Homo sapiens: one gene and its partners. The protein of the gene in region 1 purifies or fractionates together with the protein of each later gene. This does not show direct contact. Each region holds a gene or a part of one and is shown in the gene's direction. Other genes may lie near its edges. The genes, in order: CUEDC1, TOM1, SMURF2 and TOM1L2.

Region 1 (7,647 bases):
TCCATCAGCCTCATTCTCACAGTAGATAATGCCATATGCTCCAGCGATCTGAGCTTCATACAGCCACAGACTTAGCAAAAGGCTTCCATCACCTTCACATTCAGTCTGTGGAAACAGCAAGTGTTCTTGGCTGGTTTTGTTTGTTTGTTTGAGATTGAGTCTCGCTCTGTCACCCAGGCTGGAGTCAAGCACGATCTTGGCTCACTGCAACCTCCACCTCCCAGGTTCAAGCAATTTTCCTGCCTCAGCCTCCCAGGTAGCTGGGACCACAGGCGCCTGCCACCACGCCTGGCTAATTTTTGTATTTTTAGTAGAAATAGGGTTTTACCATGTTGGCCAGGCTGGTCTCGAACTCCTGGCCTCAAGTGATTCACCCGCCTCGGCCTCCCAAAGTGCTGGGACTACAGATGTGAGCCATGGTGACTGCCCTGTTCTTGGCTGGTTCTAGCCCGGGAGTGGGTGGGTGGCATGAGGACAGAAAATGGGAAGAGCTGGAATGGAAGTTAAGGGCAGCCTGGGAAGGGCCTCTCTCAGGAGTTTAAATTTCATTCTCCAAGCAATGGGAAGTCATCCACCTTGTTCAGCAGTGCAGAGACATCACCGGTTTGTACATTAGAAAAGTAACTGCTGGCACTGAAAAGGATGGATTGAAAGGCAGGGCCCTGGCAGCAGGGCCTGAGCCAGGGCAGAGGAGAGGGGGCAGGTTCCAGAGAAACTCAGAAGCAGAAAGCCCTGAGTTTACTGAGGGGGTTGAATGTACGAGGGGAGGAAGGCAGCATGTAACATCTGCAGCTTGAGCGAATGGGAGGTGCTGCTTATCCAGGACAGAGAATTCTTGCAAAGGATGTGGAGATGATGGGCTCCAGGCTCCCCGCACTGAAGGTGCAGTGGCTGTGGGACAGCTTGTCCAATGGCAGTAACACATGCCAGTCAGGGGCTTGAGAGAGGGAGTGGGGTGCTCGGACAGGTCATCAGCACACTCCACTAGGTGCAGAGGGGGTAATGTTATTAATAAAACTTGGCTGGGCACGGTGGTCCACGCCTGTAATCCCAGCACTTTGGGAGGCTGAGGTGGGCAGATCACCTGAGGTTGGGAGTTTGAGACCAGCCTGACCAACATGGAGAAACCCCGTCTCTACGAAAAATACAAAATTAGCTGGGCGTGGTGGTGCATGCCTGTAATCCCAGCTACTCGGGAGGCTGAGGCAGGAGAATCGCTTGAATCTGGGAGGTGGAGGTTGCAGTGAGCCAAGATCATGCCATTGCACTCCAGCCTGGGCAACAAGAGCGAAACTACGTCTCAAAAACAAAACAAAACAAAACAAACAGACAACAACCAAAAAAAAAAAAAAAAAAAATAGCCGGGTGCGGTGGCTCATGCCTGTAATTCCAGCACTTTGGTAGGCCATGGCGGGCGGAGGTCGGGAGTTTGAGACCAGCCTGGCCAACATGGTAAAACCTCATTTCTACTAAAAATAAAAAAATTAGCTGGGCATGGTGGCGTGCACCTGTAGTTCTAGCTACTCGGGAGGCTGAGTTGGAAGAATCGCTTGAACCTGGGAGGCAGAGGTTGCCGTGAGCCGAGATCGCGCCACTGTACTCCAAGCTGTACAACAAGAGCGAGACTCTGTCTTAAAAAAAAAAAAAAAAAAAAAAATATATATATATATATATATATATATATATATATATGCAGTCTGCAAGTGGAGCCATGAGGGGTTGGTACCTGCCCCACTCTATTCCCCCTGTGAGAACATCTGGAAAGAGGGGTTGGTTAGAAAGTTAGAGGACTCAGCCTTGGAGAAACCCCTGGGGCAGGCAGAGCTGAAGAAATGAGGGAATGGATAGAAAGACGCAGAGGCTAGGAAGCCATGAGGGTGGGAATGGTTTCAAGGAGGCGTTAGCAACATCCAGGGCTCCAATGGAGTGAAGGAATGGGATAGGGAGGAGGCCCATGGGTTGAAACAATGAGGAGCCTAAGGTTGCCTCCCTTGGAAAGGCATCTTCCCCTAGAAAGATGCCGGTGCCTCCCTGTAAAAATCACCTTCCCCTAGGATGAAGGGGAAGAAAGTCAGATTGTAGGAAGTTGAGGATTGAATAGGGCTTGAAGAAGCAGAGAGTGGGTCTGGTTGCTTCTTAGGGGAGGCCTACTGATGAATGCAGAAGAGAGAAACAGGGCAATGACTTGAGGGCAGGGCAGGGTTGGGGCCAGGTTCCCTTAGAAGGGGGTATCCTGAAGTGTTTGTAGTTTTGAAGCAGAGGGGAGGAGAAAGAAGAACTAACAGAGTTTCCTGAAGCACATAGGAGGTTGGGCTGGAAAGCAAAAGGGACATCTCTGGAAGAGCAGAGACAATAGGGCCTGAACCAGGCAGAAGTGGAGGAGTGAGGCGGTGAGAGAAGGAGAAATGAACAGGATCTGATAACCAGTGGAGGGCCAGGGAAGCTGCACAGGAGACAGAGGCTTCCAGCCTCTGAGCCAGAGGTGGATTCAGGAGAGTAGGAGGAGGTGGCTTAGGTAGGGAAGCGGTCTCAGTCGCCTTTAGCCTCCTTGAGTTTTAGGTGTCTGGGAGACTCACAGGTGGCCCTCTGTAGGCGGCTGGTGTGAGGGGCTGGAGCCCTGGGGGCTCAGAGGCAGTGGTGGGAGTGGGTGGAGGTGTCTGGGGGTGGGGAAGTTGTGAGAGGCAGGGAAGGGGTCTGAGAAAAAGCTTCCAGAAGGACAGACCCAAAAGGAGGAGTATGTTAGCAAAGCCCAAGAAAAGTGTGCTTCAAGGAAGAGTGTCCATTAGAGCAACTGGTTTTATTAATGACTATAATAATAATGTATTTAAAAATTTTACTAGCCGGGCGTGGTGGCACCCACCTGTAACCCCAGCTACTCAGGAGGCGTAGGCAGGAGAATTGCTTGAACCTGGGAGGCGGAGGTTGCAGTGAGTTGAGATCGTGCCACTGCACTCCAGCCTGGGTGACAGAGCGAAACTCCGTCTCAAAAAAAAAAAAATTATGAGCAATCCATAGGCGAGTGCAAATGGAAATCTCCAGGTTTGCAGATGCATTTTTCTGCTCCTGAAATGCCAAGGTGACAGGAATGAACTGCAGAGGGATCTTGCAAGTAAGCAGGAAAGTGACAAATGAACTGCACTATGGGTAAGTGTAAGGTAATACACTTGATAACATAATCTAGACTATATTGGCCAGGCGGACAAATCCTGAGCTCTCAGTTACAACCTGGGAAAGGAGCCAGGAGTCAGTATAGAGGCATGGGTCTGTCCCTTCGGATTAAGAATCTTTAACCTGGGGCCTGAAGACCATCTTCTGGGATTTCAAGCACCCTGCCTCCCCCGGAAATTGAATGCACCAGGGAGTGAAGTGTGGGGAGAGAGGAGCAGGAGAGAGGAGATCCTCAGAGGGGTTTGGAAACCCAGTCCTGGAGTTCCGTTCAACATGCTAACCTAACGTTGGGCCTCCCCGAGGAGGGTGTGGTTCTGAGGTTTCTCCCCCTCCCAGTTTCCCACCTTGCTGAAGAAACTTGCCCTTGACATGCAAATGATGGAAACACATTGGTGTCTGGGGCACTTTGGTTTGTGGTTTTTACCATCAGCTGTCTCTGAGGCTGAGCGTGTCGATCTGTCTCAGCAAGGCTAGCAAATTGCAAGCGCTCAGAGGAGGGGAGAGGGGGGCTATTCCTGGGGTTCTGGGCCCAGATGGGCAAATGGGTCTGTAAGGCAGACTTTTCCAGGAGGAGGGTGCAGACCCTTTGCAAGTTGTTTGGGGACAGAGCTTAGTTTGCATCTGGCCTTCTTCACCCTCCTCAGATCCCCTAGGTAGCAGGGTGCTTGGTGGTCACCACCTGACCTAGGCTACCTACTCCCAAATTGGAGTCTGAAATGAAAGCACGTGGGAAAAGTATAGCAAAGGTCAGTTTCCCATTTATTAAACAAGTTCTTCCGTGGAAAATCTTCCCAGGGCTCAGCAGCCCTTGAAGTGATCAGGGATGCTGGGGAGGTTGGGGGAGGAGAAAATGGGAGATGGCAGGTGGTATCTGTCGGTGTGGACGAGTGATAGCTTTGATTTGCTCCCCCTTCCCACCATCTCCTGTGTCCTCAGCATTTGATTTGGTTTCCTTTCCGGGGCCCTAATTCCAGGGAGGTGCCCCTCCTCCACACCTGTGTCCCAAGCCCCAGCTGTGCGTCCTCACCCTGGGTTCCTGGCACTGACCTGGAACCTGTCGGGCAGCCCTGCTCTTAGCTCCCCGCGGAGTCTCGGAGGTCTCAGGTCTCCTCCGCCCACCCTCTCCGCAGCTGGGAGGGGCAGGATGCCCCGCACCCCGCTCTGCGCGGGAGGTCGAGGCACCCCGCTCACGCCCTCCTGCCCGCAAGCTAGGGAGTCACTGCGGCCGGGGAGGGAGGTACACGGAGGGCATTTTTCCAGCCTTCACTGGGTGCTCCCCTCTCCACCCCCGGCAACCATGTAGGTTTCCGGACCCCCAGGTCCGCTTCCCTCCTCTCTGGAAAGGGGTCGGCCATAGGGAAAGGGCCCGGGGGCGCCGCAGCCGGGCCCCCGCCCCGCCCCGCCCGCAGCCCCGCTCCTCCCCGCGCGGCCCCACTTGTGGCCCTGCCGGCAGCCGCGCAGGGACAGCTGCATTTCTCGCCGCCCGCCGCTAGGAAGCCGGCCTCGCCTCACTTTCTCCGCCTCCCCGCGCCCCAGCCGCGCCGCCGCCGCCGAGCCTGGCCCCGCCGCCACCGCTGCGGATTGCAGCCCCTCCCCCGCCCGGCCCGCGGCCCGGCCCCTGCGGCCCGCGCGGAGCGGACGCGCGTGGCGCTGCCCGGTAAGACCCCCGCGCTCCCGCGGCTCCCGCCCGGCCCCGGGCGCGGTCCTCGCCGGCGCCCCGCGCGCAATCCCGGCCGCGGCCCCGGCCCAGCGGCCCCACCTTCTCGGGACCCGTTGCCCAGGCGCCGCCGGGAGGGCCGGGCCGTCGCGAGTTTGATTCCCGGGGCTGTCGGCGCGGCTCCCCGGGAGCTCCGCGTGCGGCAGGTCCCCGCCCGCCCTTCCTTCCCGAGCCCCCACCTCATCCCGGGCCCCGGGCGCGGGGGGCGTGCGGGCATCTGGGGGGCCGGGAGCGGGGCGCGCGATTAGACCGGGGGGCGCGGGCCAGCGCCGCAGGGAAGGGAGACGAGGCCTCCCGGAGCCGGCTTCGCCCGAGTCCCCTCTCCCGCCGCTCCCCCTTTTGTGTGGGCGCCCCTCCCCGCAGTGCCCGGGCCTGGGGGCGCAGGCTGGGCGGCGACGGCAGGCGGGGGCGCCTGCTGGGAGCCGAGCGCCTTTCAGGGGGAGGGGAGCTTCGCTTCCTGCCCCCCGCCGATGTCACAGGTCGGCTCAGCCTTTTTTGGTCCCTCCCGGTCCCCTGGGAGCTGTATCTCCCGTCAGCTCGGCCAGGGAAAGTTGGGAATGCGCTGTCCCCGCCCCTGCTCGCCCGCCCCGCCGGCTCCTGTGCCCCAGGCTCTGAGCTCCAAGGGGGGCTGGTGTCAGCGTTTATTCATTCCTCCCTCTTCCTTTTCTCGGTCGCGTGGTCGCCTTACACCCAGCACTGCCCTGCCCATTTCTTTTCCCCTTAAAAAAAGTTTTAGCTCTAAGAAACGTACACTGAAATTAAATTCCTGAGACGGAATGTGTTTTAAGGGGAGGGAGGGTTTAGATTTTCCTTTTTTTGGTGGAGTAGTGGAGTAGAAGATGAGGGGACTCCCTGGGAGTTTAGAAACAAGATGCCCTGGAGGCGATAGAGGATACAAGAAGACCATCCACCGTGCTCCCCACCTGATCCGCAGTCAGCGTCTTGTAGCGAGAGGAATGAGCCTTCCCTGGGTGATCCCGCAGCACCTGAGCCACCTGGCCCAGGAGAAAGGACTCAGGGAGATGTACTGGGCCTTTCACCCCTTTTCTTTATAGCCAGCTGTGCCTGAAGGAGGTGAGGGACCCCAGGAATTCTCTCACGGAGGAAGTCATCTCACCATGTGGTTGGGCCCCTGCTGGATCAAGTGTGAAGCTGGGTCCTCTCTGTTGTTGGGGGTCAGTGCCACTGGTACCTCAGTTTGAATATGGTGCCATCTCTGGGATGGAGAGGTGCTGCTGGGAGAAACCTGGCTCGGGTCTCCAGGAAGCTGGAGCGTGTGCAGCAGGGCTGGGTGTGAAACCCGCTGTCCACTTTCTGCAGCTGGAAGGGCCAGGACAAGGGAAACAGGATACTGCTACCGACCTGGGCACATCCTTGAATAGAAGAGAGACCCTGGACAGCGAGGATGGCCCAGGGATGTTGATATGACTAGGGCTGTATCCCCAGCTCCTGGGCCAGGCCAACTAGGGCCAGAGGTTGGAGTCATGGGCCCCTTTGAGAATCTGGTGAAAGCTCTAACTCCTCTCCTTCCAAAATGCATGTGTGTAGGGAGACACCTGTATTCAACACCAGACGGTTAATATACCCCCTTGGAACCAGGACCTCCATTGAGACCTCTGCCCTAGAGTTACTGGTCTGACCTGGGCCATCAGAACAGTTGTCACCTTTTTGGCTGGTCAGTGAATAATCCCAGGGTTCAAAGAGCAGACTGCTTCTAAGGTCTTTTCTCATGACCTCCCTATGCAACTTTGGGCTTGTGGCCATGGAGACCTGGAGTGTCTGGACAGATCCCAGCTCCCTACAGCTAGCTAGAGGATGGGGGCAGATGAGGTGGCCCTTTTCCAGGGGCTCATTTTGCTGTCTGTGTGGTGGGAAGGCCCTGGGCACTGGACTAGGCCCACTGGTCTATTGAATTAGAGGTAAATAAAGGGATTTGGGTGGAGGTGGATATTCTGGTGTTTCAGCTGGGTGTGAGATCCAGGCCTTTAAGAGCTCCAGCTTGTTCTTGGGGAAATGGGGTTGAGGTGCTTTAGTAGAGAGTGTTAAGTGTGAAAGACGACTCTTAAGGAGGTCTTGGGGCAGAATTGTCCAAGGCTATGATCTGGGTGTTGTCGGTTCCTTAGATCCCTTTGGACTCTTGAAGGCAAGTGGGGGCCAGAGGGCTGCTGTCACTATCCCCAGTGCAGCCCCAGGCCAGAGGAGGCCTGGCCTGCCTTTCCTTTCTTGGCTCACTGGGTCCTGGGCTGCTGCATAGGTGTTTGTGGCATCTACACTTGCTAGGGATCTGGAAGAGCTTTAGGACGATCTGCCATTTGTGACTTCTCTACCTTGGGACTGAGAAGACTTCCTTAGGCTCAAGTCCCCCACAGAGAGCTGTAGGGGATTTTTCTTTGTTTAACTAGAGAGCACAGTGTTTGGCATATGGCAGCACTCACACTGGTATTCTTCCTTTAGAGCTTCCTACATTTGCTCTGGTAATAAGCAGCAGAGGCAGGAGTATTCTAGAGCCTTGGGGCACAGGAAGCTGGGTGTCTGACAGGGGTCACCTCTGACTATCCAAGGTGAGCTGGAGGAGGTGGTGCTTCTGTGTTGCTGGCTCTTGCACTTACAGGAAGCAAGAGCTATAAAGGGCATTGGAGGCCGGATGCGGTGGCTCATGCCTGTAATCCCACCACTCTGGGAGGCCGAGGGGGGTGGATCACCTGAGGTCAGGAGTTTAAGACTAGTCTGGCCAACATGGTGAAACCCCGTCTCTACTAAAA
Region 2 (7,019 bases), on another chromosome or scaffold:
GAATCATCACCTCTCTTTGGGGTAGTTCTGCTGGGTGGCTCGGCATCGGTCCCTTCTGTGGGTGCCTCAGAAGGGTACAGGAGGGCCAGGTGACCTGTTAGTAATGGAGCGTTTGCTTCCTAGGTAAAGAAGCTCTCTGTGAGATTCTAGAGGAACCTGGTTACAGGGGATGCCTCTAGGAAGAGGGGGCTGGGGCAGGGGACAGAGATAGATTTACCTAGCTCCATTGTATACCACTTGAGAACTTTTACATTTTGTATCCTGTGAATGGTTACCAACTCAAAAGATAATTCTTTTTTGCTTGTTTGTTTGTTTGTTTTGGAGATGGAGTTTCGCTCTCGTTGTCCAGGCTGGAGTGTGATGGCTCAATCTCTTTGCAACCTCCGCCTCCTGGGATCAAACGATTCTCCTGCCTCAGCCTCCCAAGTAGCCAGGATTACAGGCATGTGCCACCATGCCCAGCTACTTTTTTGTAGTTAGTAAAGACGGGGCTTCACCATGTTGGTCAGGCTGGTCTCAACTCCTGACCTCAGGTGATCCACCCACCTCAGCCTCCCAAAGTGCTGGGATTACAGGCGTGAGCCACCGCGCCCAGCTCAAAAGATAATTCTAAAGTCAAGGGAGAACATCTTATCTACAGAAATGAAGCAAAGCACTGTCTCCATATTGTCATGTCAGGAATAAGCACACGGAGGCCCACCTAGATTCCCCTCTGGTGCATCCCTTTGGTGCACTCAGAGTCATGGTTTCCTCATCCATTGAAGAGCAGAGGTACTCCGGCCTCAGTGGCTACAAGAATCTAGTGACGATGGGACAATGTGTATAGAGCAGTCTCACACAGGGCCAGGCCCTGTGCCCAGGAAGTGTCTGTCATCTTCCTCCTCCCCATCTCATCCGGCCCTGCACCCCCCTCCTCTCCCACCCACGGTTTGAGTTTACCCATTCAGGACCCCCTCATGACTTTATGACTCCTGGTTTCTTCTCAGAGAAAGCCACAGATGGCTCCCTGCAGAGCGAGGACTGGGCCCTCAACATGGAGATCTGCGACATCATCAACGAGACGGAGGAAGGGTAAGGGCCCCCCAAGGAGAGGTTGGGGGCAGAGACGGCCATCCCACCACGCAGCACACTCCTGCACCCTTCCAGGGAGCCCCTGCCCCAGCCCCATTGCTGCCATAGCCACCAAGTCTGACCCAACCCGCTTGGCTGCAGAGGCCATCTGAGCCCCTAGTACCTGAGCCCCATCCAAGGTAGGAATTCACAGCTGGCCCCTGGGGGCTGCCACCCCACCCCGCCTCTCTTAGTGGCAGCCCAGATTCCACACGGATCTGGAAGCCCAGCCTTGTGTGCAGCATCTGCCTAGGATGAGGCAAGCTGGAGACTCTTAATCAGAAGTTGACCCCAAGCGCCATCTGCATTCTGCAGGCGGGAGTGTGTACTAGAGAGACTCCGGCTTTTCTGCGAGCAAAAACAGACTTCCATTTCCTTAAGATTTGAAACCAGCCTGGAGGGTAAGGGAGATCACAAGGATGGCAGGGAAAGTGAAGCTGAACCGTGAGCCTGAACAGCACTGGCGTTTGCCGGGCGTTTCTGGTGTTGGGGTCACGGTATCGTCTTGCTCAGTGCCAAGGAGCCCTGCCAAGGCACATGGTGTGGGGGAAGGATTGGGGTCTTGGCCTCCAATGTCTGACTCGTTGTCACTGACCAGCCGTGTGACCTTCGGAAGTCACTTTACCTCTCTAGGTCTTTGTCCTCGAAGGTGCTCTGTTAGATCCTTCCAGCAATAAGCCCGAGTCCCTGGAGGGAGCAGAAAGGGGATGCGAGGGTCCCTGTCCTCTCAGGAAAACCCAGCGAAGGCTGGGCAGAGGTGTGGGAGCCGTGGGCAGCAGGAAGTGCTGCCAGACGAGGCCTCCATCCTGAGAAATCAGTGTGGACCCTCCTTTCCCTCTCCAGTTCTCACTGGGATCATCCAGCTCTCCCGCGGCCAGTGCAGGGTTCCTCTCAGCCCGGGAGGGCTTTGCGTGGAGAGGCGCAGGCTGGATGCAGGTGGAGGGCAGGGAGTGCCCAGCTCTGAGCTGGAGGGAGGCTGTGGGCATCTGAGTCACACAGTCAAGGCCCAGTCAGGAGAGGGCAGTGGCTGCCAGGAACCTGCCGGTGTCTTCCTCAGCCCTGCTCCCTGATCTTGCCAAGGACTCATGAGAGTGAGGGTGAGGGAAGGAGTGGTGGGCAGAGGTCAGAAGAAAGAAAGCAGGAGGCAGAAAACCTCACCAAGCCTCTAGACAGGCCTGGGAGCTTCATGGACGTCGCAGCTGCAAGTCACTGCAGTATCCTTGGGGACAGCAAGCCCCCATGTCCCTTATAAACATGGGAGGAACAGGCTCGGCGTCGGTCAGGTGCATTGCTATTTATTTGAGCACTTTGTGTGTTCCAGGCAACACAGGAGGCACTAGGGACCCAGCAGTGATCAAAGGCAGGCATGACCCTTGACCTCACCAAGCATGGCACCTAAACTTAGCCTCGTTGCTAAAGTGTCTCCCCCACTGGGTTGTGGCCTCCTTGTCATACACTTTGTGCTCCCAGCAGAGTACCGGACATCATGGGCCCACAGCAGTGGCAAGGCCAGAACTTCCGATTCCCAGTGCTTCCCTCTAGGGAGAGAAGGCGTCCAACAAGGACGCTGTCCCTGCGCTCTAGGAGGCTTCTTCTCTCCCAGGGTGGGCCCCCAGGTCAGTGGCGCATGGCGGAACATGCCAGGGAATGATTCTGATTCCCTTGTGTCTAGGCCACCCTAGAAGAGGTGGAAAGAAGTCACTATAAAGCGCTGAAGTAGCCCGTGGGTCAGTGGCCAGGCCAAGACCAGGAGCCAGGGACGGGCGAGGGGCTGCCCAGGGAGGCAAGGGTTGGAAACTGCTCTCAGGCTTCTGGGCCAGGACCCCCCTTGGTGGGCCACCATCCCTTTCCCCACCGTGTCCCTTCCACCGCAGGCCTGACCGCCTCCATAGCTCTAGCCCCCAGGCAGGCTCTGTCCCTAGGAAGCCTTGCCTCTGCCTTCACTCCTGCTGAGAACCAGTGCCAGGGTTCCAGGCTCTCCTGCCTTAGTCCTGGATGGGGTCAGCACTGACAGCCAGGCAGACAGCCGGATGGGTCCCAGTGGCCACTGGCCAGGCTGAGAAATGTTACTTGTGCTTCAGTAGTGTGATGGGCTCTAGGAAGGGAAGCTGTCCAAAGAGAACACCATCCCTGCCCTCTAGCAAGCTTCTTCTCTACCCAGGGTGGGCCCCCAGTTCAATGTGGCATGGCAGAACAGGCCAGGGAGACTGGAGGACCTGGGAAAGTGTTGTGGAAGGGGTGGATTTTAGCTGAGGCTTCACCTCATGGATGTGGAGGTCAGGAGCCTTCAGGGTGCAAGTGGGGGCCCTGCACAAAGGCTTTTAGACAAGAGCAGTCAGGGCAGCACTGAGTATACCTGTATAGGGCCGAGGGTGGAGGATGGTGGGAATCACAGAGGGGACAGGGAGAGCAGGCTGGCACCCCAGCTTCCAGGGGCCTCCCAACACCGTGACCCCTAGGCTTCTTCAGCCCTCCCCGACCTCCCCCACACTCAGTGTGGCCTCCTCTTAGTTCCTCCAAGGCATCAAGCTCCTCTGCACCCAAGACCTTGGTCCAGGCTCTGACCTTGACCCAAACTGCTCTGCCCCCACTCCCCCCAGGTGGTCCTTCCCATCTTTCAAGGCCCAACTACAAGACCACCCCCTCGGAGGTCTTTTCTGACCACCCCCATCCTCACCTCTGCTCTTTTTCCAGGACCTGCTTATTCCTTGCTCTTCTTTGGATCTCCCCGCAAGGTGGGGAGGAGGCAGGGCCATATGGTCTTGTTTGCCACTGTGTCCCCAGCACCTAGCATGGTGCTACATACATATTGGGTGCTTAATAAGAGTTGAATGGGCCAGACATGGTGGCTCACACTGGTAGTCTCAGCGTTTTGGGAGGCTGAGGCAGGAGGATCACTTGAGCCCAGGAGTTCCGGGCTACAGCGAGCTGTGATTGCACCACTGCACTCCAGCCTGGGCGACAGAGTGAGACTCTGTCTCAGAAGGAAAAAAAAAAAAAACTTGAATGGAAGGGTAAATGGACAGATAGAGCAGCTGGCCAGGACGGGGCATCAGAACACTATGCTAGCTGGGCTCAGGGACTCATGCCTGTAATCACAACATATTGGGAGGCCGAGGTGGGAGAATCATTTGAGCCCAGGAGTTTGAGACCAGCCTGGGCAACATAGCAAGACCCCATCTCTATTTTTGTAATGAAAACATTATGCCTCCAGGTTATTTGTTCTTAAACTTGAGCATGCATAAGAAACCCTTGGGGAGCATGAGAAGCATTCAGATTCAGGGGCCCCACTCCCTGAGAATTTGGTTCAGGTGGTCTAGGGTGGGGACCTAGGGTTCTGCTTTTTTTTTTTGAATGTCCTTTGTTTTTTTGAGACAGGGTCTCACTCTGTCGCCCAGGCTGGAGTACAGTGGCGCAATCTCGGCTCTCACTCTGTTGCCCAGGCTGGAGTACAGTGGCGTAATCTCGGCTCACTGCAACCTCTGCCTCCTGGGTTCAAGCGATTCTCCCGCCTCAACCTCCCAAGTAGCTGGGATTACAGGGTCATACCACCACGCCCGGCAAATTTTTGTATTTTTAGTAGAGACAGGGTTTCACCATGTTGGCCAGGCTGGTCTTGAACTCCTGGCCTCAAGTGATCCACCTGCCTCAGCCTCCCAAAGTCCTGGGATTACAGGCATGAGCCACCGCGCCCGGCCAGGTTCTGCACTTTTAACAAAACGCTCTCATCTTTTCTCAAAGTGACTCTGCTGCTGGAGGTCCAGGGGCCACAGGTTGTGAGTCCCTGCTAAGCAATGGGCTAGGAAGATTCTGATGTGATCAGAACCTGGCTGGATACACAAAACAGGTGGGGCACAGGGAGGATGGGCCAATAAGAACTGTTCCAACTCTCCAGGGTCTCTGGTGTTAGGTAAGGGGGCTCTATTCCTAAGCCCACCCTTTTTCTTGTCCTCCTTAGTCCCAAAGATGCCCTCCGAGCAGTAAAGAAGAGAATCGTGGGGAATAAGAACTTCCACGAGGTGATGCTGGCTCTCACAGTGAGTGCCCCATCTGTCTGTCCTGTGGCAGGACTACGGTCCACTGAAAGTCACCTCCCCTCAGACCCAGCAGGACTCCCAGCCTCCTCTGAGCTCCTCATTTGAGAGCTGGAAAGGTCTGTAGGCAACGCACTGTCCTGTCTACACTGCAGGCGGATGCAGAATGGCAAGAGGCCATTTGGAAAGGTTCTCCCCAATCCCCCAGCATGGGAACAGACGCTTACATCACTCCAGAACCACTGGCAGGGAGAGCCTGGGCCAAAGGACCTGTGGGTGACATTGAAGCTCAGTAAACCCAGGCCTCCGCGGGGGCAGGGAGGCCGGCTGACTGAGTTGGGTGCTGCTCGGCACTTTGGTGCTCTGGCAAATGAATGTAAAATAAATACCAGTGGCTGAGAACAGTCTTGCCCACACCACTGAACCAGCCCAGATCTCAGGGCGGCCAGACACACGTGGGCCTCCTAGCCGTCAGCATGGGTTTGGCTGGGGAAGATATAAATGCTGTCCCACCCTCCTCCACAAGCAGCATTTATATCCAGGTGAATTGGCTTAAGCAAAAAGCAAAGGCAATTCCTGCAGTGGGAAGTGGAGAGTGGGGAGGGAAGTTCAGTGCCTTTTCCCTGGGCCACAGGCTCACCAGTCGATTGACATCTCAGATGCTCCTTGATTTCCTCTTGGAGAGCCCCTTCTCTCTAGACCATGTTTAGCTCAGAGACAGCATTGGGATTCTGCGTGCACTGACGCCAGTCAGGGAAGGAAGTCCAGCCCACACACCATACCTCTGCCCACCCTAGGCCGTGCCCTCCAGTAAACAAGTCCCCCAGTCCTGGCATTGTCCCAGTCCTCCACATTCAAGGGTCTCACTCCAGGAAGTCCCATCTCCTCTCCCGGGCCTCCTCTCTGGGACACAGGAGGAGCCACGAGGGTGGGGGTTCTGAGCACCTCCTCTCCTCTGACCAAGGTGCTCGACGGCACCTCTCGGCCCTCCAGGTCTTAGAAACCTGTGTCAAGAACTGCGGGCACCGCTTCCACGTGCTGGTGGCCAGCCAGGACTTCGTGGAGAGTGTGCTGGTGAGGACCATCCTGCCCAAGAACAACCCACCCACCATCGTGCATGACAAAGTGCTCAACCTCATCCAGGTGAGTGCCAGGACAGGGCAGGGCACGGCCAGGAAGAGCTGTCAGTGCAGGAGCTTCCTGCCCAGTGGAGAGTCGAGGCCATCGTGTTTGTCCCAGGCTCCGCTTCTCATTTCGGGGCGTCTCGGTTGTCGGCTGGTGGGATGTTCTGTGGGGAGGGAGGCTTGCCAACTGCGTGCTTTGCTGTGGAGTGGGCAGGGCAGATGTAGTTAAAAAAAAAAAAAAAGCAGGGAAAGAATGTCTGTTCTCTGTCTGAGTGCCAGGTGGGCAGGCTCACAGGTGAGCTGTGGTTACCGGCTGTGTCCCCTTGTCCCCTCTCAGTCCTGGGCTGACGCGTTCCGCAGCTCGCCCGATCTGACAGGTGTGGTCACCATCTATGAGGACCTGCGGAGGAAAGGCCTGGAGTTCCCCATGACTGACCTGGACATGCTGTCACCCATCCACACACCCCAGAGGGTGAGAGAACTGCCGTACCGGGAACCAAGGGAAGGGAGGCAGGACTCATCCCCAGAGACATCACCAGGCTGGCCCCTGACTTCCTGGGCTCTTGATGTTCCCAGGAGCCCTCACTGATCCTGTTTTCCTCCCACTAGACCGTGTTCAACTCAGAGACACAATCAGGACAGGATTCTGTGGGCACTGACTCCAGCCAGCAAGAGGACTCTGGCCAGCATGCTGCCCCTCTGCCCGCCCCGCCCATACTCTCCGGTGACACGCCCATAGCACCAACCCCGG
Region 3 (7,941 bases), 6.7 Mb from region 1:
GGCTGGTCTCGAACTCCTGACCTCAAATGATCCGCCCGCCTCAGCCTCCCAAAAGTGCTGGAATTACAGGCATGAGCCACTGTGCCTGGCCTATCTCTGGTATTTTTAGTACGATGTCAAGAACTTCATATATTTTTTGGATCACTTTAATTGTAAGGTCGTATCCAGACTGATGAAATGCTCTTGGAGGTAACTATCCTGAGAAGCAACTTCACTGATGCATTAAAAGCAGTGACTGGCATGGAATAAGGATTAAAGTATATTAATCCAAAACATGTAAAATTGCATTAATGTTATAACAACCTAAAGCAAAACTAATAAATCACATAAAAAACTCTCACGTTATTTTCCTTAGTAGTTTACATTGTGCTAGATACTTTTGCATGTACATGCTTACAACTTTTCTTCTGTTTTTAAACTTTGCATTACATATAAATTCTACCATATTATATGATCCTCATAAAAATCGTCGGTTAAATGGCTGCATAAAAAACCATGCGGTTGGCCGGGCGCAGGGGCTCACGCCTGTAATCCTAGCACTTTGGGAGGCCGAGGTGGGCGGATCATGAAATCAAGAGATTGAGACCATCTTGGCCAACATGGTGAAACCCTGTCTCTACTAAAAACACAAAAAATTAGCTGGGCATTGTGGCGCGCGCCTGTAGTCCCAGCTACTCGGAGGCTGAGGTAGGAGAATTGCTTGAACCTGGGAGGCGGAGGTTGCAGTGAGCCGAGATGGCGCCACTGCACTCCAGCCTGGCGACAGAGGGAGACTCCGTCTCAAAAAACAAACAACAACAACAACAACAACAACAAAACCCCAAAAGACCATGCAGTTTACGGATCATTATGCTGTTCCCTCATTTCTTTTTTGTTATTAATGGAATTTAGCAAAGAACATCTTCTGTACTATTACTTATTTTTCAAGAATAGGGCCGGGCGCGGTGGCTCACGCCTGTTATCCTAGCACTTTGGGACACCTAGGCAGGCGGATCACCTGAGGTCAAGAGTTTGAGACCAGCCTGGCCAACATGGTGAAACCCCACCTCTACTAAAAATACAAACATTAGCTGGGGGTGGTGGCAGGTGCCTATAATCCCAGCTACTCCGGAGGCTGAGGCAGGAGAATCACGTGAACTTGGAAGGCAGAGGTTGCAATGAGCCAAGGTCGCACCACTGCACTCCAGCCTGGGTGACAGAGTGAGACTCCAACTCAAAAAATAAAATAAAATAAAATAAAATAAAATAAAATAAAAATGGTGGCTGAATGAATCTCATAGTAATATTTTGATATGTAAAGAATGGTCCTGCTGGGCACAGTGGCTCACGCCTGTAATCCCAGCACTTTGGGAGGCCGAGGAGGGTGGATCACAAGGTCAGGAGTTCGAGACCAGCCTGACCAGCATGGGGAAACCCCCGTCTCTACTAAAAAAAAAAAAAAAAATACAAAAATTAGCCAGGTGTGGTGGTGGGTGCCTGTAATCCCAGCTACTCAGGAGGCTGCGGCAGGAGAATCACTTGAACCCAGGAGGTGGAGGTTGCAGTGAGCCGAGATTGCACCACTGCACTCCAGCCTGGGCAACAGAGTGAGACTCCGTCTAAAAAAAAAAAAAGAATGGTTCTGTTTTCATGTCCAATGCTATTTTCCTTTCCTCAAAGACTTTTACACCTGAATGTATATAATTGATTTTACCTAAGATTCCCATCCCTTAATTTTCCGTCTTATCTTTCCCAAGTTCCGGCTATTAATTTGGTAATTCCCTACATGTTGTCATTATAATGTATATATATCCCCCTTTGGGGACATAAACATATCCCCAAGGGAAGAGAAACACATAAACTTTTTTGTTTTTTTAAACTTTCTAACCCAATCGTCTCTGAAATCTGAGCCTGGACTAGATGAGGCCACTCACTTAAGAGAGGCCTTCAAAATGACTTTCCTATTATGAGTATTCTGTTTTTGAGTGCATTTGTTTTTTGAGGTAGGGTCTTACTCTGTTGCCCAGGCTGGAGTGCAATGGCATAATCATGGCTCACTGCAGCCTCAACCTCCTGGGCTCCAGTGATCCTCCCACCTTGGTCTCCCGAAGTGTGGGGATTACAGGTGTTAGCCACCACGCTCTGCCCCTGTTCTATGTTTTCATTTATTTTACTTCATTTTAAACATTTAGTTACTTTTAAATAAATGTTTACAGTCAATGTCAATATTTAAGATGGCAAGGAAAACAATAAAATGAACATCCATGTACCTGCTTAAAAAAATCATTACCAGTACATTGATTTTCTTTTTATTTTTGTGATAGTCTCAGTATGCTGCCCAGGATGGAATGCAGTGGCACTGGAATGCAGTGGTGTGATCACGGCTCACTGCAACCTTGACCTCCACAGGCTCAGGTGATCCTATCTCAGCCTCCTGAGTAGCTGGGCCTATAGGTGCAGGCCACCACTCCTGGCTAATGTTTTGTAGATACGGGGTTTTGCCATGTTGCCCAGGCTGGTTTCAAACTCCTGGGCTCAAGTGACTCCTCTGCCTCGGCCTCCCAAAGTGCTAGGATTACAGGCATGAGTCACCATGCCCAGCCCTTGAATGGTTTTAGTGTTATTCTTATCTGAATATTTGTTTTAAACAACAGGATTTAACCTTACAAGAAAGCCTAAATACAAACCTCTGCACGTTAACCCTATATACATTTTTCTATGCTGTCACTTACATTTTTTAATTTACTGCTTTCAACTTCAAAACAAGCAGTCTCCCCCAGGTCTCCCATGACGTTCTGAAATCCTAACTTCTATTACCTAATACAAGGCTACAAATTATGTTAGTTGGGTGGTTGGGAACAAAGCGTGCTGTAAAAATAAGGCAAATGTGTATGTGTACATTAGTTTGCTAAGTTTTTTGCCACTGTCTGCCCTCTTAAATTGTGGTAGCAGCTATTGTTCACATTGATTTCTATATATTTGTAGTACAAGGAAGCATTTCTAAAGGACCTTGTTCATTGCTTTGCACAAAATGGCCACTTAATATTTGTTGAATGAATTGCTGGCACTATCTCTGGTATTTTAATTTTTATTTATTTATGTATTTATTTTTGATATGGAGTCTCGCTCTGTCACCCAGGCTGAAGTGCAGTGGCGTGATCTCGGCTCACTGCAACCTCCCGTGTTCAAGCGATTCTCTTGCCTCAGCCTCCCTAATTGCTGGGACCACAGGCATGCGCCACCAGGCCCGGCTAATTTTTTTGTATTTTTTTTTAGTACAGACGGGGTTTCACCATGTTGGCCAGGCTGGTCTCAAACTCCTGACCTCAAATGATCCGCCCACCTCGGCCTCCCAAAGTGTTGGAATTACAGGCGTGAGCCACTGTGCCCGGCCTATCTGTGGTATTTTTAGTGTGATGTCTAGAACTTCATATACTTTTTTGGATTACTTTTAATTGTAGGGCTGTATCCAAACTGATGAAATGTTCTCGCAGGTAACTATCTGGAGAAGTGAGTTCACTGATGTATTAAAAGAAATGACTGGCATGGAATAAGGATTAAAATATATTAATCCAAAACATTTAAAATTGCATTAATGTTATAATAGCCTAAAGCAAAACTAACGAATCACATAAAAAATCCCCCACGCTATTGTCCTTAGTAGTTTACATTGTGCTAGATACTTTCGCATGTATATGCATACAACTTCTATTCTGTTTTTAAACTTTGCATTACATATACATTCTTCCATATTATATGATCTTCATAAAAATAGTTACATGGCTGCATAAAAAACCATGCGGTTCCTGGACTATTATGCTATTCCCTCATTCCCCTTTTGTTATTAATGGAATATAGCAAAGAACATCTTCTGTACGATTATTTGTCAAGAATAGGGCCGGTGCGGTGGCTCAGGTCTGTAATCCCAGCACTTTGGGAGGCCGAGGCGGGCTGATCGCTTGAGGTCAGGAGTTCGTGACCAGCCTGGGCAACATGGGAAAACCTAAACGTCTCTACTAAACATGTCTCTACTAAAAATACAAAAATTAGTGGGGCGTAGTGGTGCACACTGTGGTCTCAGCTACTCCAGAGGCTCAGGTGGGAGGATCACCTGAGCCCCGGAAGTTGAGACTGCAGTGAGCCGTGTTCGCACCACTGCACTCCAGCCTGGGCGACAGAGGGAGACCCTGTCTAAAAACAAAAAAATAAAAAATAAATTTCTAGCAGTACAGTTACAATGTCAAAGGATAAGGTACACATTTTTTAAAAACTTTTCTCTTTCTCCTCCTGAGATAACGAAATACAGTAGCGTATGAACAACTCTTCATACATTACTCTCCAAGGTTTATCTTGTTAATCCTTTAAGACGTATCATCTCCCCATCCTTGGCTGCACCTGAAAAGAGCGGGAGTCGGCAGGTAACCTGATCTCCTCCACCAGGTGAGTCCCGGATGGAGGTGTCAACTACAAGACCAGGAGCAGAGCATTCCTGGGGTTTTGCTGGAACCATCGGCGTGGGAATGCTTTCTCTTCCCTCGCCCGAAAGACGCCAAGTTCCCGGCAGGCAGCGGACTCGGTTCTAACCTTCCTCGCCCCAGCCTCTCGGAGCGCCCTGCACGCAGTGGGCGTCTAATAAAATGCAGTTGGCCCTGCTTGGACAAAAGTTCTCCCTTAAGTGGCCCGGACAGTAAACCCCTCCAGGTGCCACAGAGCTGCCGCGCCCGCCGCCGCTTTGCTCCCTGCCTGCTCCCTCCCAGCGTTCCGCGTGGGACCCTCGGCGGCAGCTCACACCCTCCCTGACTGCCGGTGCCCGCCAGGGCACCCTGCGCGCGCCCGCCGGCCCCGCCCCGGCCCCGCCCCGCCCCGCCGGCCCCGCCTCCCGTCTCCTCCCCGCCCCCCGGAGCCGACGAGTGGCGGCGGCGGCCCCAGGTCCCGGGTCCCTCAGACAAGAGGGCGGGTGGAGGAGGAAGCGGCCGAGCCCAGAGTTCTGCTCCGGCGCCCCCGAGCACCGCCCGCTTCAGCCGACCAGCCCCGTCGGCTACTGGGCCTCGCCGAGACGAGAGGAGGGAAAGGCCTCGGCGGCCGCGAGGAGGCGGCGGGGGCGCGGGCGGAGGCGGCGCGGGCGGCCGCGGCTGCCGCTTTGTTGTGCGGCCCGGGCCGAGGAAGGAGAAGTGGGAGGAGGGGGGAGCTCGGCGTCCCGCTCCCTCCGCGGCTCATGGCGACGACTCTCGGCACATCCGGGACCCTCCGGCCGTGGCGGCCGAGGCGCCGGCTGCTCGGGCCCCAGCCCCGGCCGCTGTGGTGACTCCGCCGCGCCTCGCCGTCGCCCCCGTGCCGCCCGCCGCCCCCGCCGCCCCCGCCGCCGGGGACATGTCTAACCCCGGAGGCCGGAGGAACGGGCCCGTCAAGCTGCGCCTGACAGGTGAGGGGGGGCGGCGGGCCGGGCTGGGCAGCCGCGGGGTGGGCGAGCTGGCGGGGGGTGCCTGTGGCCTTGGGAAGGGCCAGGGTCGCGATCAATGATGAGTTGGGGGTCGGAGGAATGGGAAGGCCTAGTTCAGGGAGAGTAATTGGAAAACCACTTGCTCTGGTTTGGACATTGTTTAAAAAGCCGAGGATGACTCGGGGCGGGGGGTGGTGTTTTGTGGAGGGGAGAATACACCGGTTCGCATCGCAGGCGGATTTCAGGTCGGAAAGTCTTGGTCAAGGAGCCAGACGCTGCCTCCCGGGGCTCGGGGAACAGCCCCTGGGCTACCGCCCAGGTGAGATCGTGAAGGGGATGAAGAGCTCCCGTGGCGAGGATTATTGAATCCGGTTGCTGACTGCGCGCAGTAAACACTCCTTAAAGATGGAGCGCTTAACGGGAGGGTGTGCGTGTGTGTTCCCGGGTTGTTACCTTGCACACACCCAGTTATGCCCGCATGAAAAACCTTTACTCCCCGCCGCCGGCCACCGCTGCCCGGGCCACACACCTTAAACTCATGTCTCTGAGGTGAGGAGACAGGTTGACTTTTCCGGTGTGCCTGTCTGATCCGACGGCTTGGGCTCATTGTACACTGTGTTTTGGAAGTGTCTGATTGTAGGGTGGCATGTTTGGGGTTGTTCCTTTTAGGCCGCAGAACTTGTGTCTAACTTCTAACGCCAGACCTGCTTTAAAAACACACTTTTTTGGGGGGGGTGCATTGCTAAGTATGTGCTCATACAAACTTTCGAGCAAACTTTCTGTTACTCTCCCCACCCTCCCCATTCCTTTTTCGAAATGGAAAAGAATGTCCGGAGGGGTTGCCAGATAGAAGACTACACTTACAAAGTGTTTATGATTCCAGGTGCATGAAATCTTTAACATTACAGGTACGTTTTGCTTACAGTGCCATTTTTGGTATTCTTACATGGACATGCCACCCCCGTTTTAGGAGAACTTTTATTTGGTTTGTAAAGGAATTGGAATCACGGCGTTATCCTACCTTCACCATTTACCCCTGATAAATTGTCCACGTTTGTATTCGGGTGAGTGGTGAGAAAGATAATTTTCCGTAGAGGATTTGTGTGTGCGTGCACGTGTACGGATAAACTGTAATTATGTTTGCCCACACTAGACTTTGAGATTTATTTGGACTAATTTTGTAGTTAAATGCCTGTGTGTCACATCCCAGTCCACTGGCTGAACTTGCTGGATGAAAACTTGCAGTGAATTTGGTATTTGAGAATTTAGCTTGAATGTATGTTGGCTGCAATTTAAATAATATATTACTTTCATGGCAGTTTTCCTTTCCCTAGGGAAAATTGCAGGGAATCATTAACTGAGTGATTCTTAATGGAAAACCTGGATTGGAGGATACTTGTATTCCACCCCCTCCCCCCTCATTCAGTGTCCTTACATTGGGAGGAGTCAGTGGAAACCTTTATAGGGGATCTTTGTTGCTTTAGAGTTTATCTGTTGCTGTTGCTGTCTGTAGTCAGTGATCGTGGAAAGAACATGTGATCCCAGGTGTGCAGAAAGCATCAGAAATAGGCTGTTTCCATTTACCCTCCTCTGGGCTATGTAGAGAAAATGAGGGAAAAAATTGGGTTTTTGATTTTCTGCAGATAAGGTTAGTTGAGGTTTTTAGTATGACTTAATAGATCTTAAAGTGTTTATCTGTGGTTTCCGTACTGCCTATGATACATTATAAGAATTTATAATTAAAGTTTATTAAGAGGAAAGATTATGCTTATATTTTAGGGGAAGGGGGAATATTGAACTACATTTATAGTGATTTTGTTTCAGGTTTTTCTGAGGAATTTTAAATACCCTGTGTCCTCTTAATAGTAAAAACAGTTTGAGGTACTCTGAGTTTCTTACAACTATTTGTCTCTGAATAGTTTTCTCTTAAAATTTGACAAATATTAAAAACATTGTCCTTCCTTCTTTGGTTACAGTGGAGTCTCTTCTGTTTTGCCAGGAAAGTTAACATATTTTTTCTTCCATTTTTGTTCATCATTTATAAATTAGATGGTATAGATTTTAGCAAATAGATCTCAAGAGCTGGATTCAATTAGCAGCTTTTTAGGACATAAACATTAAAGGGTTAGATGGAAAAGATTGTTTTGACTGACTGGATAAATGACAGGGCTGTGTTTGATGTGCGTCCAGGAATTGGTCTGGAGCTGGTGCCCAACTTCTCAGTCCATCTTGAGAAGCCAAATAAAATATTTAACCTAGGCCTCATTTTGTTTAAAAAAAAAAAAAAAAAAAAAGTTGATTCTTTGTGAAGACCTTAAGAAATGTTTGGCATACCTTTAGACTAAGTGTTTAACAGTTCATTTAGATCTGGGTTGCCTAATAGAGGAAAAAAAATCACTTAAAAAAAGACAGATCCCACAGTGAATTTATATTTGGTTTACAATACACTTGGGCTATAAGGTGTTTTAAAATTATTGTTCTTTGCTTTAAGTTAATACCATATTAGTATTTTAAATTTATAG
Region 4 (7,019 bases), about 40 Mb from region 1:
GCTCCCAATGGGCTCTTCTTCCCTTGAACCACAGTCATCTCACCTACTGGCAGCAGCGCTAGACAGAGCTAGGCTAGACAAGCTCAGCATTAGTTGTCTCTGATCTGAGGAAACCTGTAGTTAGCCTTTACTTCATGTCACACATCAATTTCTCCTTTCCTTTCTGCTCAATTTGTTGCCGGTTCCCAACTCCACCAGTAGAAGCTTTCAGGGCAGAGGTGCTCCCGCACAGAGGGCAGGCACCCTGCTGAGCTGACAAGGCTCCAGCTTCCACTCCCTGCAGCTGAACAGCCCCAGCAATTGATTTCCTTGCCATTAGGGAAATTCCTGCTTTTTAGGATGCACCACCGTGCATAGGTGTTATTTCTCTGTCTCTTCTCCAAGGAAATACATGCTAAATTAAGTTTTGTGTTTTTGTTCACGCTCAGCAGCACCATTGAAAGCCAGGGTTTCACCAGCTGTGTCGTGGCAGCAGTTGCGGAAGGAGAGGAACAGAATAGGTTTAGCCAGTGCAATTTGCATGTGCAAGTAGGAGAGCACTGGTCTCGGGGAGAGGACGTGGGCCACTTTGGATTTTCAGATACCATGGCAGCTCTGAGAAATGCTTCCTAACAGGCCTTCTATTATCCCAGGCATGGGCTGATGCCTTTCGAAGCAGTCCTGATCTCACCGGCGTTGTGCACATATATGAGGAGCTGAAGAGGAAAGGGGTTGAATTTCCCATGGCAGACTTGGACGCTCTGTCTCCCATACACACACCACAGCGGGTAAGCTTCCAGCTGGCACTTTCTAGAAAGACCTACTGCAGAACGGGTGAGCCAAGCTGCTGCAGCCACCCTTCTGCTGCTGCCTTTGAATTATTCAGCTTGTCATCATGCTTTCTTAAAGCTCGGGGGCATTCCTTTTTAATAACAAGGGGCATGCAGGAGTGAGACAGCTGGTTGACTGGTGATTAAGTGGCAGCAGTGTCTGTGGAAGAATATAATAAAGGGATCAGTTCAGGGTTTTCATGGAAATGGCTACTTGGGCGGAGCCATCCTGTGAGGGTCATTAGCACCTGCTTTTCAGAGGCCCCTAGAATCTGGTGTGGGAATCCTGTTGTCCCTCAGAGCACCATAGCACCTCAGGGCTTGATGTCACTCTTGGGTCAAAAAGTAGCTTTCTGTTTTTTCAATTGTACCAAGTCAAATGGATCTAAAATTTATTTTGAGCTGTGAGTATTCAGCATCAATCCAGAATTGATTCTGGATTCAATCCTTGATTCCATCAGCCTTGGGATCAAAGCCCTGGGAAGGTCCCTTTAGGGGCATCCCACCAAAGCTTTTGCAGTGCCAACAGTAACTTGAGCACCGTGGAGGGGGCAGCTTGGCACTTCAGGGTTAAAAGCATGTAGGTCATGCCTCATGGTTTCTCAAGGAAGCTAGTCCCTCTACTGGCTGGGAATCAACTCCACTCCTAGCCTGGGGGAGAGCCAGGAAAGCACCAGGGTCTGGGAGAGGCACCTCATCCCAGTACACTTCACCTTGCCTGCCCCCACTGCCCATCTCTGAGAAGGATAGCACACCTGTGCACATCTCTCGTAGGAACACGACTTAATTTTAATGTGCAAGAGGTCATCTGAGATACCCAAAGGGCAAGCATGAGGGATTGCCCTTTCTCTTTTTTTTGAGTCGGAGTCTTGCTGTGTCGCCCAGGCTGGAGTGCACTGGCACAATCTTGGCTCACTGCACGCTCCGCCTTCTGGGTTCACGCCATTCTCCTGCCTCAGCCTCCTGAGTAGCTGGGACTACAGGTGACCGCCACCATGCCTGGCTAATTTTTTGTATTTTTAGTAGAGACAGGGTTTCATTGTGTTAGCCAGGATGGTCTCTATCTCCTGACCTTGTGATCCACCCGCCTCGTCCTCCCAAAGTGCTGAGATTACAGGCGTAAGCCACCGCACCTGGCCCAGGGGATTGCCCTTTCTGGAGGCTGTTTTCATCATGATCCCTCCAGACCACGCGCTATGCTTTGTGAAATCAACATAACCTGTTTCATTCTTCTAATAATGACAGAGAGCAGTGTTGTTGTTCCTATAATTACAAAAAACATTTGGTAAATTGCATAATTACTATTTATATTAGTCTACTTGTAAAGACCAAAAAAGTAATTCTTATGGTACCAAGTAAAGATCTGTGATTAGCAAAACTTAATAACCGCCCTCCCTCCACTTGGATCCCGAGGTGGTCTTAATAATAGGAACCATGACCAGAGGGCTCACAGAGCACTCTCGGTGCTGCCTTTTGGAGTTGCTTTCATTGGTCTGCCACACATTCCTTGAGAGGTAAGTAGAGGGAGGAGCCATTGGCAGCCCCACTTCCCAGATGGAGAGCCTGGGCTCAGTGGGGTTCTGTGAACCTCACCCGGGCAGCAGTGGAGCAGGGCCTTGAGCCTTTCGTGGGCAGCCTTGGGGAAGTGCTGCATGGGGTGGGGTAGGTACCAGGTCCAGCTATGCAGGCAGCCCAGGTAAACAGAGGACTTTGTTGTTGCCATGCCAGAGTGTCCCTGAAGTGGATCCAGCTGCGACCATGCCCAGGTCCCAATCACAGCAGAGGACAAGTGCTGGTTCCTATTCCTCGCCGCCTCCTGCTCCCTACTCCGCACCGCAGGCCCCAGCTCTGAGTGTGACTGGCCCCATCACAGCCAATTCAGAACAGGTACTTGCATACTTCGGGGCCATAGGCAAGCCAGCTGACTATCCTTTTTCATCTTTCTGGGAGACACTTACAAAGGCCTCCCAAGCCAGGTATTGTGCTGGGTGTTAGGGACACAGAGATGGAAGGGCTCAATCCCCAGGGGAGAGAGATGCTGAGGAAGTCATGATGGATTGTGGTCAGGCTGTGGTGGGGAGCAGAACCAAGGGCTCAGAGTTGTGAGCCCAGGGTTGAGTGGTGCCTGGGAGGCACCGGGGACCTGACATGCAGAGGGTCCTGACACAGGAGTTGGGCTTTGTCAGGTGAGACCGCATGCTCAGCAATGACATTTAAATGCAGAGATGCAGACGCTGCTCTCTCGGAGCAGCAGGTGGCTTGATTGGAGAGCAGGCGCATATGTAGGGCCCAGATCTGGGAGGAAACCATGGCAGAATGTGAGGCCAAAAGCATAGACGTGCAGCTGAGTTGTGACGGGCTTGTCTATCATGCAGAGGCTTAGATCTATCCCATAAAAAAAGTCAGCCATCAGAGGCCTGTGACCTGATCAGGGAGGCCCTCCTGAAGCACAAGAAGCCTGCTTTTATCCCAAACACTCCCCACCCTCCCGGGTTACTTCCTGATAAACTAATGCAGTTTTAACCCCACACTGGATTTTTTAGATGAATTGGGGAGTGCTCTTTAGAAGAATCCATAGAACTTCAATTAGTTACAATTTGAGAATTGGTCAGACTTGGGGGAAAAAAAAACTCTCCAATGTTTATATTTACCAAATCCTTATTTACTATTTGCGACAATGTCATGACTGTGGAACCTCACTGAAGCAGAGGGGTCAAGCAATGTGTGTGTAGGGATAGCAATGTGTGTGTAGGGATGGCAGTGTTGTGTCGTGTTCCTCACACTTCCCTGCTAGCTCTGAGCAGGGAGTACGGTGAGAGCAGGAGGAGTGAACTTGAAGCCCCCAGGGCCTGGGTGTGAGCCCCCAGCTCTGCTGCTCACTCTAGGCTTCAGTCAGGACATTTAACCCCGGTCTCCCATCAGTAGAACAAGTGATTTGTTACCCCACCAGGCAGCTGTGGGCTTGACAGGCAGATGGAAGAGGTCCTCATTGTGGCTACCCAAGTGCTGTGGGAAAGAAGGTCTCTGGCTTTTGGCCCTGCTTCTATGGGCAGAACTGTGCCCTTCCTGCTCTGAGGGAAGGCAGAAAATGTTTGAAGTTGGACAGTTACTGAGCCCCTTCACCGACTCAAAGTGTGGGAGGTGCTTGGGAAGGCCCTCCTAGTAGCCAGAAGATGCTGGGTCTGCAGGGTCTGGGCATAGGTAGCACAGGAGCCCTGAGGCATGTTGCCCCTTGGAGAGCAGAATGCAAGCAGAGGTAGGCAGGTCAGCACCCAGCCTGGCCAAGAGGACCCAGGGCTTCAGAGTCTACTGGGTGGCTGCCCATAGCCTTCCTGGGCCTTCCTAGCCAGAAACCTCTTCTCTCTACCAAGACTTTGAAGAAAACCCCTGGATCATCCACCAGGCAGAGCCAGAGGCTAACAAGAGCCTCTCAGGACCCAGACCATCTCCCTGGTAGACCATTGATTGAGGTCTCCTGTCCCTGTCTCTGTGCTGAGGGTATAAAGCTCAACCCAGCTGAGTTCCTGCCCTAAGAAGCTAAAGGTCTGCTGAGAGAGCCCACCCACACAGGAGAGGCTGCTACAGCTGCAATAGTGGAAGATGGCACAGCGAGTGGGAACCTGAGGAGGCGGGAGTGGTTGCTTCTACCTCAGGATGGGGTGGGGAGAGTCAGAAAAGGCTTCACTGGGGAGAGAAGTTGTCACTTAAGCTGGGTCACAGTGCAGGAAGAATGACATTACAGTTCCTCTCTCTGGACCTTTGAGCAGGAACAAGGGCCGTATGTGTGTAGTAGAGAGCATACCTGCATGCCAGGCGCCGCATGGGAAACTCACAGCAGCCTGGTGAGGTTAGTGCCACCTTTCTGTAGGTGAGGAAACGAAGGCTCAGAGAGGCTCAGGTCCGGCTCTGGATGTTGCTGCTGAGTCTTCCAGGGCTCCCTCCAGTGTCCTGTGCAGTTCTTGACCTCTGTCCAGCGTTATTTGGTCTCTTGTCACTGAGTGATGGGACCAGTAGCCACCTCTATGCAGATTCTTCTATGATATTTCACTGTGGGCAAGGAAGGTCCCTGTGGTTTCTGCAGATCCTTCGAGGGGGTTGAGGGAGTGAAGGGGCAGATCTGAGGCACAGGACTGAGGGCAAGGGGAGAAAGTGTATGATGTCTCTGTTGCTGGAGAGGAGCCTTGGGCCTTGGCCCAGGTCCAGGCTTTGGGATCGCTGATGGGCAACTTGGGTATTTTTCAAGGGGCTGTGTTACCATGTAGGGAGCTGGGTGGGGAAGGTGTCTCCCCTGTCGTCTTCCCCTGTTCTCTCATTCTTGCCGCAGCAGAAAAGTGCTATTGACACTGCCCAGCCTCTCAGAGGGATCCTAGTGTTTAGATGTAAAACTCCTAGGAGCAGAGTCTATAACTCAGAGCTTTGTAGAATAGGATCTCAGCTCTGAAGGGATCTCAGAGCTCCTGCCCTCCTGCACTTGGATTTTAAAGAGCAGGAACGGAAGCCCTGAGAGGTTCAGCTTCTACTCAAGTTCCCGTGGTGGGAGAGCCGAGACGGAGAGCCAGCTTGGTGCACTCCTGACACGGAGCCCTTCACTACGTGGTACTGCTTTCGTGTCACAGTCAGAGAGGCACAACAGACTGTTGGTGGCAGGGCCCATTCAGCTCTCTCAGAGCTGACAGGCAGGCCAGAGGGAGATGAGAAGGTGGCCTCTGCAGTGTGCACTCAGAAAGGCAACCCAGATCTCCCAGTGAGAAGGATTGTCACTAGACTAGGAGCAAGCTGATTCTGATATTGCAAGTGCAGGCTGACTGACCTTTCCTTCCTGCTTTCCTTCCTCGTGGCCCCCACCAGATTGCCAGGCTGCGGAGTGAACTGGACGTCGTTCGAGGAAACACAAAAGTCATGTCTGAGATGTTAACAGAAATGGTCCCTGGACAGGAGGATTCATCTGATCTGGAGTTGCTGCAGGTGAGTCATCTTTCAGAAGCACTTGGCCTGTGGTGGCAGCTCTTCCACCGTACACTGTTGGAGGATCCCACCCGGGGACACAGCGGCAAGGCGGGACAGGTCCAGTGGCCCTGTTGTTGATAGTCCATGTGAGCACACATGCAGCCTCACGTTGCCTACGGACAGGCAGAGGCCAGTACCACTGTCTGTCTTTTTTATTTTCCTTAATAACATTTTTTTCCTGATTATAAAATGCCAGTTGTAGAATACATGCTCACAGAAAGAAAAAGAAAGCACAGAAAAGAAAATAACTTTCTTTGACCCAAGCATCTGTAAATAACCACTGTAGGTGCTTTGATGTATTTTCTTTCTGACTTTTTTGTAGGTTTATTTTAAATGTAGTTGAGCTTGTACTATTTCTGTATTTTGGTCCCTCAACATCACATTTTGCAGGAGGGCCTGTTCAACCTTGACTGTGCACAGGAGCCCTTGTAGTGGCACCTCACCCCCAAGGTGTCCTGAGACTGAGATGAAGTGTGATGCTCCCATGCTTTTCCCTAACACTGAGGATTCCCAGGCATATTGTGGTTTGCCATTGCAAACTGGCCTCCCCGCCTCTGGACAGCCCATGGATCTGGGGGCATGGCAGAATGGGGTCCAGGAGTGGGCGGCCTGCAGTCTACCCCTGAAACCAGGGTCAAGGCCCCCACCTCAGGCCTGTTTCCCAGGGCAGCCAGGTCCAGAGCCAGTGCCCAGATCTCCACCACACCCAGCCTCAGATGACCCTGGCATTTGCAGAAAATGTCAGTGGTACTGCCCTTAGAAGCAGTGACCTTCTGGAGGGTGGAAGAAGGATGCTGTGAACTGCAAGGCCCCACACACTTTTCAATGGGAGGCAAGATGCTTGAGGGAACAGGTCAGGAGCCAGACTGATTTAGCAACCTGGCATGAGTTTCTCATGATACACCTGCTGCTGCTGCTGATACTGCCATTTGTGTCTGGCCCTCCGTTGTCAGTCTTGGTCCCCAAGTGCTACACCTTCTACCCTGCTGCTGGCACATGCTTGCCGCCTGTGAAGGCCCTGTCCTGGTCCCAAGTTGCTGCTTATTGTGCCCCCTTCCTACTCCAAAGCCATCGGCTCTTATGGGGGTGAGGGTGGGTGGAGACCTGTTCCAGGCCTGACACAAAACACAGTCCTAGGGGCACAGAGGTGCATGAGCTGTGGTCCCTGGAGCTTGCAGCTTTTTGCAGGAAATAGACCGGGAA

The links.
Region 2: the proteins of CUEDC1 (region 1) and TOM1 purify together in Homo sapiens (co-immunoprecipitation; 3 studies listed by BioGRID and IntAct, with this or other methods). This does not show direct contact.
Region 3: the proteins of CUEDC1 (region 1) and SMURF2 purify together in Homo sapiens (co-immunoprecipitation; 3 studies listed by BioGRID and IntAct, with this or other methods). This does not show direct contact.
Region 4: the proteins of CUEDC1 (region 1) and TOM1L2 purify together in Homo sapiens (co-immunoprecipitation; 3 studies listed by BioGRID and IntAct, with this or other methods). This does not show direct contact.

What each region holds. Positions count from the first base shown.
Region 1 is NC_000017.11:57,952,403-57,960,049, reverse strand, and holds the start of CUEDC1 (CUE domain-containing protein 1), read left to right. Parts: upstream 1-4,637; 5' UTR 4,638-4,825; intron 4,826-7,647.
Region 2 is NC_000022.11:35,316,891-35,323,909, forward strand, and holds part of TOM1 (target of Myb1 membrane trafficking protein), read left to right. Parts: intron 1-986; coding exon 987-1,071; intron 1,072-4,851; exon of another isoform or gene 4,852-4,957; intron 4,958-5,068; coding exon 5,069-5,147; intron 5,148-6,108; exon of another isoform or gene 6,109-6,137; coding exon 6,138-6,287; intron 6,288-6,605; coding exon 6,606-6,740; intron 6,741-6,877; coding exon 6,878-7,019.
Region 3 is NC_000017.11:64,659,289-64,667,229, reverse strand, and holds the start of SMURF2 (E3 ubiquitin-protein ligase SMURF2), read left to right. Parts: upstream 1-4,922; 5' UTR 4,923-5,349; coding exon 5,350-5,401; intron 5,402-7,941. UniProt on the Homo sapiens protein: E3 ubiquitin-protein ligase which accepts ubiquitin from an E2 ubiquitin-conjugating enzyme in the form of a thioester and then directly transfers the ubiquitin to targeted substrates.
Region 4 is NC_000017.11:17,878,382-17,885,400, reverse strand, and holds part of TOM1L2 (TOM1-like protein 2), read left to right. Parts: intron 1-632; coding exon 633-767; intron 768-2,537; coding exon 2,538-2,696; intron 2,697-5,657; coding exon 5,658-5,774; intron 5,775-7,019. UniProt on the Homo sapiens protein: Acts as a MYO6/Myosin VI adapter protein that targets myosin VI to endocytic structures. May also play a role in recruiting clathrin to endosomes. May regulate growth factor-induced mitogenic signaling.